Homo sapiens: one gene and its partner. The protein of the gene in region 1 purifies or fractionates together with the protein of each later gene. This does not show direct contact. Each region holds a gene or a part of one and is shown on either strand. Other genes may lie near its edges.

Region 1 (3,500 bases):
TGGACCAAGAAAGATTGCTTCAGAAGGTATGAGTTTTGAATGTGATCTCAAGTTTCGATGGGTATGATTGGCAGGAGGGGAAGCTTTCTGGGTGGTCAGAGTGACTTGATCAGAGAGATGCAGAGGAATTGACAGAAAATAATGGGCTTGACTACAGTCAGGAGACACAGGTGGAGCTCTAAGTCATAGTCTGTGTGTTTATACACAGAATATAACTCTGCCAGGGGCTGTGGAGAATGCAAGGTGCAACTAAGCATTTAGCTGGGGGTCACTGGGCACAAAGGTGAGGATGCTGGCAGGGAAGGGGAAGGAGTCAGGGTAGCGGTGAACCTAGGTATTTCTGAGTCAGTGCAGCTCCCCTGCTAGACGGAGAGCACCTTAAAGATGGAGATCTTGGCTTATTCATCCCTATAGCCTCAAGGCCTGGTCTGGGCATGCATCTAAGGGTTCAGCAAATTAAAGATAAATAAGTGGAGGGGGCAGGAGGGAGAAGGCACCACAACAGAGGGTGAGAATGAATATAAGGCTTTATTCTTTTTTTTTCTTCTGGATCAGTGATGTCACACTTAAGACTCTCGTGACCACAATCAAATAGTCTTAGACACTGGTAAAACAAACAAACCAATAACACTTATTGCCTATAAGACAATTAGAGGGAAGACTGAGGGGAGTTCATGAAATGAAATATTTGAGAAGTCATTAACACACAAATTTAAAACTAAAATGGAAGCATCCTAGTTGAGTAACTTATCCCTTTAACTGAATTTTTTAAGGTATATTTATTGCCAGCAACGTTAGGAACATTACAATTTTTAAAGGGTGTCGGTGCCCCCAAATTGCAAATTCTAATTGTGCTTTCAAAATGAAGCATTCATTAACATCAGTGAAGAAATACCTGAGTTACCCTGAAAGGGAGCCAAAGTCAATAGAATGATTAGGGGAATCTGGGCATGGGGGAAGGAAGGACACTATCATTTTTAGCACAGCTCTGAGGGTTAACTAGGAGACGATGTTATCTAAAGTACAGCTCATGTATATGTACAGTCTATTTCTGAAGAGAGAGATGAAGAACTTGGTTGCACATAAGATGGGTGGGTGAGTGGGGGGGTCTGGGAACCTGACCAAGAAGGGGACCTACTTTTCATTGAAGACCTTTTTGTCCCATTTGGAGTTTCTTTAACCTTGTTAAGTTTCTTATACCTTAAACCATAAAAACATTAGAAGGTGGAAATTCTCCAAGAAATTTTATTTCCTATTTAAAACGAGACAAAACAAAAACCCACGACGAAATAGCAAAAAGTCATGGTGGTCGGGCAGAGATGAAACCATTTATCGACAGAACTTAAAACAAATCACAGGGAATACTCAGAATCTAGCCATCTGGTAAGGTAATACAGCAAGGGGCAAACAGATGTTTGCAATGAAAATTATATCATCCGTACATTTACATAATTTCTGAATTATGTAATTCAGCTTCGTTCATGGCAATCAAATAATCACTCTTTGGAAATACGAGTTTCTATTCATTATTAATGAAATTTTTTAGAATTTAGGATCTTCAAAGAGTATTTTTCAAAGCTCTTCAGGGAAGTAAAGATTTAAATTAGTCATTTAAGAAGAAGGAATTTAACAATGAATCCTACCCTTTCTTCCCTTTTCAGGCAGATGTAATTGTTAATTCTGTAAACCCACATGATATTACAGTTGGACCTGTGGCAAAGTCAATTCTACAACAAGCAGGAGTTGAAATGAAATCGGAATTTCTTGCCACAAAGGCTAAACAGTTTCAACGGTCCCAGTTGGTACTGGTCACAAAAGGATTTAACTTGTTCTGTAAATATATATACCATGTACTGTGGCATTCAGAATTTCCTAAACCTCAGGTAAGTTTAAAATAAATGTGGCTTTATTTAGCTCCATAGTCTATACAGTCTTTTTTTTTTAAACAAATTTCCATCATTTCATTACATTCATGAAATATTTTGTCAAGTGGTATAGTTCTCAATTTTTAGCACACCTGCGAGTACCAGAAATACTGAACAGGTACAGTTGCCATAAGTTATCTTAAGAAGTTTGATTTAGGTCTGTCGCAGTGGCTCATGCCTGTGAGTCCAGCGCTTTGGGAGGCCAAGGTGGGAGGATCACTTGAGCCCAGGAGTCTGAGACCAGCCTAAGCAACATAGCAAGACCCCCATCTCTACCAAAAAGAAAAAAAAAATTAGCCAGGTGTGGTGGTGCACACCTGTAGTCCCAGCTACTCGGGAGGCTGAGGTAGGAGGATCACTTGAGCCCAGGAGATTGAGGCTGCAGTGAGCTGTGATCACACTGCTGCACTCTAGCCTGGGTGACAGAGACTGTCTCAAAAAACAAACAAAACAACAAAGAAGTTTAAAATGTTACCTAACCCATGTCTAAATTTTAAGTAGGCATACTGCAGATAGACACTGAAACTAGTATTCCCTCAGTCTGAACACTGGTTCACCCCAACATACCCAGTGACCTCGTTGGCCTTTTCCTAAGTAGGCAAGGGATTCAGCCTCTTATGTCCCTCCATGTGTTATATTCCTGGAGCAGCTGGGGTTCCCCCTCCAGCATCATTCCAATCAAATCTATTACCTGAGGTCTCTTCCCACCCATGCCTGCAGTGGAGCCTGGCTGTCTAGCCCACTCTCCACTGAGGCACATAAAATACAAGCATTAACGAACTCAGGAGGCAAAGGTTGCAGTGAGCCGAGATCGCGCCACTGCCCTCTAGCCTGGATGACAGAGTGAGACTCTGTCTCAAAAAATAAAATATAAAATAAAATAAAATAAAAGCATTAAAGAATAGGAGGAACCCACTCAGATGGTGAAAAGAGGGAAACTTAATCCCCTTCTCTGCCTTTGTCTATCTTTCTTCTTCACCATTTCTGGTCCCTTCTTGAGAGCTCTCTAATCCCAAACTGGTCCTCTAGTCTCCCTCTATCCCTCAGTTTTCCAAAGTCCTTCCATGGGCAACATTCCTGTATTACTTTGATGTTAACAGTTGGTAGAAATTTAAATCTGCCAAAAATATTAGCATTTCTCCAAGAGAAATTACATGATAGATCTTAATGATGTTGAATAAGTGCTGCTTTCTTATTTTAATCTCGATCTCCTTTATGAAAATTCAAGGGCTCTTGACGTTGACCTGGAAGGGGCAGGTGAATGGGGTAAACAGATGGTTGGCTCTCTGACCTGGGGGGATGGGTAAGGCTATATAAACTGGGAGAAATTCTAGTGCCCTCATGTCCTGAATAGCACAAGATGGCCACTCTATTGCTTCAGTTTCTCACCATCTAACCTTATACCATAATGGGTTCCCTCTGGAGTGGGACCTTTCCTGTCATCTGAGGAGGCAGGGACACGAACCCTGAGGGAGGGTGAAGGTGGACATTGTAAAATATGGGCAGGATCAAGGGGTAAGTGGAGTCTTGTTCTTGACTCAAATGCTGATCTTAAATTTGTGTTTTCCTGCAGAT
Region 2 (3,500 bases), 160 kb from region 1:
GCCAGCATAAGAGATTCAAACTTAGATTCCCGAGCAACAGAATGACAGATCCGATGCTGACTATTCTCGCACTGGAACAAGGCAGCTCCGTTGACTTCAAGCCTAAGAATGCATGCCTCCCCTGACCAGCTCTCTGAAGGAGACCAAGCAGGGATTCCTAAAGAGCTCAAAGAACACCTGTGCAACAAAACTGCACATTCTGCCCATGTACCCCAGTATAATTAAAAAAAAAAAACCACCTAATTAATGATAAATCCAGAGCGCCATCCTTATATATGAAAAATCACGCTATCATTACCTAGTTTTAGGAAAAGAAGAAAATCAAAGAAGCAAGTAGGCTGAAAAGAGGAAAGTGGAGAGTTGAGTTTCTGACCCACTAGGTTCTGGTGACTGAGAAGCTTCTACACAGAAATGCCCTGAGGCCAAGTGACACAGCTGACTGTTGAGCTGAAGCCTGGTAATATTCCTCTGGGAATCAGCTAGAGTGAGGTGGAAGTTGTTGTACTAATATTCTCCATGGAGAGGGGAAAGAGGAGGAAGCTAAGGACTGCATAATGGAGAATATGTAGGGAATGGAAAAAGGGAAAGTAACTGAGGAAAGAGAATGAGGGATGGCCTTTCCACTCTCTCCCTTCTCTTCTCCTCCTTATTTTCCCTTCCCTTCTTTCTGCCTCTCTAACATTCTAACACTCTCTTCAGTCTCCTGCATTTTGTCCCTCTTTTACTCAAACAATCCACAGGCTTTGTCATTCCCTTGGGAGTTGTCTTATGGGGAGGAAGCTGTCCACTCCTAGCTTAATGGTTGCTGCCCTGGGTCAGACTCAGCACTGACCGCATTCACACTCAGCTCCAAATGAAAGGGAAAGTAGATGGCTTGGGATTTAGCCTTGACAGCCAGAGGCTACGAACCTGTCCCAATGGCTGGGAGGCAAATGGATGAGTAATTTTTTTTTTCACACTCCTGCAAAACAGAGGAAACTGAACTCTTGACATCATTTCCACCAATTACATGAATGATATTCTTGCACCTCAAAAATCCACCTCCGGTGATTATATAATCATTTTTGCGCTGCTGAGCTGGGAAACACAGACAAAAAGATGCAAAATTAGTAGAAGTTGAACCCGTCATTTGTTTAGAAAGCAAAATGTATAACTTGGCAAGTAAGCATTTTGTGAAAAAAAAAAAACTCCTGAAATACTATCTTTGATGGAATGCTATGACTTAACTTTACTTTTAACTGTGAGATTACTTTTCACTTCTAAGTGTCTGTGATTGGAATTCTTTAGTAAAATGTATCATTTTAAAATTAGAGTGTTGTCTCCCCAACCCTAAGACTTTTCTCAGCCTCTCCACAGCCTCCCATACAATTACAACTTAGGACCAAAAAATAGAATATGCCTTACCTTGCTGAGAACATTCCCTTTCTACATTTTGTCCAGCACATTCTAAAATTGCTTTGGAGACCCCTACATGAGAAAATCAAGATGATAACAAACATGAGTAAAAAACCACTATGGTATATTTGGATCAGAAGGATTATCTGAATGCATTCTCCATCATCTGAGGAATCCTCTAATTGGGTATTGCTGATGACAAAGAAGAAAACTTCATAAAATAAACATTATTAATTATGGAAAACCCTGTCAGCATAATTTAAAAGTTATTAATTAACAAGCCAAAGTTCTAAAAACCAGTTTGGCTATAGAAACCCTCCTTCATAGCATCTACCATTAACTATTGCACTCATCAAAATTGTACAAGTACCTGCTTTGAGATTGAATGAGTTTGATGTTGAATTTACAATCACATCTGCCTCTTCTTTCGTGATATCTCCAGAAGCCACCTGGAAGATGATGGAGCCAATCTTCATTTCATACACACCTGAATCAGGGCTAGAAACAGTCCCATAAAAACCTGAAAAGAAAAGAAGTAAAGTCAATAACCGAGTCAGCCACAGCAAGAATGACTTGGGTATCCTGCTCACATGGGACCCTCTTGGATGTCTTCCCTCTCCCTCTCTTTCTGTGACCTCTGGTCTTTAACCTGGCCCTGCTCCTCAGCCTCAGTGATGATCTGTTTAAGAAAAAAGAATTAGAACATAGAATCCATATCAAACATGAACTCTGGTGCTGACCAAGGTGAAGTTAGCGTACTATAGCCTATCTCTCCCGTTGATTACAACTAAAAACAGGACAAATACAAAAAGCCACCACCCAAGAGCTCTGAAAAGTTACAATAACAGCAGACAGATTGAAGAAAGGTGCCAAAACTTGCAGAAGCAATCTGCTAAGTGGGGCAGTTTTCCATTTTGTTCTGTTTTAAAATTTTTCCTCTTTTCTCTCCCAGCTTTGACCCAAGGGTGGCCCTAGTCTCACAACATAATATTTAAAATGTCAAGTCTGTATTCCAAAATTGCTTGTTATATAAAGAACCAGGAAAATTTGATCAACCCTTAAGGATAAAGAAAATCAAAAGCTGTCAATCCAGCCAGACACAATGGCTCATGTCTGCAATCCCAGCACTTTGGGAGGCCGAGGTGGGTGGATCACTTGAGTCCAGGAGTTCGAGATCAGCCTGAACAACATGGTGAAACCCCATCTCTACAAATAATACAAATATTAGCTGGGATGGTGGTGCACAACTGTAGTCCCAGCTACTTGGGAGGCTGAGGTAGGAGGATCACCTGAGCCCCCAGAGGTTGAGGCTGCAGTGAGTTGAGATTGTGCCACTGCACTCCAGCTTGAGTGACAGAGTGAGACTCTGTCTCAAAAAAAAAAAGATGTCAATCCTGGCCAGGCATGGTGGCTCATGCCTGTAATTCCAGCACTTTGGGAGGCCGAGGCAGGTGGATCACTTGAGGTCAGGAGTTCAAGACAAGCCTGTCCAACATGGTAAAACCTTCTCTCTGCTAAAAGAAAAATACAAAACTTAGCTGGGCGTGGTGGCACAGGCCTGTAATCCCAGCTATTTGGGAGGCTGAGCAAGGAAATCACTTGAACCCGGGAGGCGGAGGTTGCAGTGAGCCAAGATTGCACCACTGCACTCCAGACTGGGCAACAGAGCAAGACTCCATAGAAAAAAGAAAAAAAAAAAAAAAGATGTGAATCCCAAAAAGATGTGAATTATAGAAGACTTTAAAGCATCTACTATAACTATGATCCATGAGGTCAAAGTAAACACATTTGAATGGATGGAAATGATGTGGAATGAATGGAAAAATAGGATGTCTCTGCAGAGAAATAGAAACTATTTTAAAAAGACCTCAAACAAACAAACAAAAAAAGATAAAAATGAAACAAAAAGCTGGTTCTTTGAAAAGATAAAGAAAATTCATAGACCATTAGTGAGATTAACCAAGAAAAGAAGAGAGAAGATCCAAATAAGCTCAATTAGAAATGAAACTGGAGACATTACAATCAATGCCTCAGAAATACAAAAGATCATTCAAGGCTGCTATGAACACCTTTACATGCACAAACTAGAAACTCTAGAGGAAATG

What was found. The genes of interacting proteins can lie anywhere in the genome.
Region 2: the proteins of PARP9 (region 1) and PARP14 purify together in Homo sapiens (affinity purification with western blotting, with the first as the bait; one study listed by BioGRID). This does not show direct contact.

The regions. Positions count from the first base shown.
Region 1 is NC_000003.12:122,550,801-122,554,300, reverse strand, and holds part of PARP9 (protein mono-ADP-ribosyltransferase PARP9), read left to right. Parts: intron 1-1,661; coding exon 1,662-1,883; intron 1,884-3,498; coding exon 3,499-3,500.
Region 2 is NC_000003.12:122,711,839-122,715,338, reverse strand, and holds part of PARP14 (protein mono-ADP-ribosyltransferase PARP14), read right to left. Parts: intron 2,075-3,500; coding exon of another isoform or gene 2,064-2,074; exon of another isoform or gene 1,916-2,063; coding exon 1,766-1,915; intron 1,468-1,765; coding exon 1,405-1,467; intron 1,078-1,404; coding exon 910-1,077; intron 1-909. UniProt on the Homo sapiens protein: ADP-ribosyltransferase that mediates mono-ADP-ribosylation of glutamate residues on target proteins. In contrast to PARP1 and PARP2, it is not able to mediate poly-ADP-ribosylation.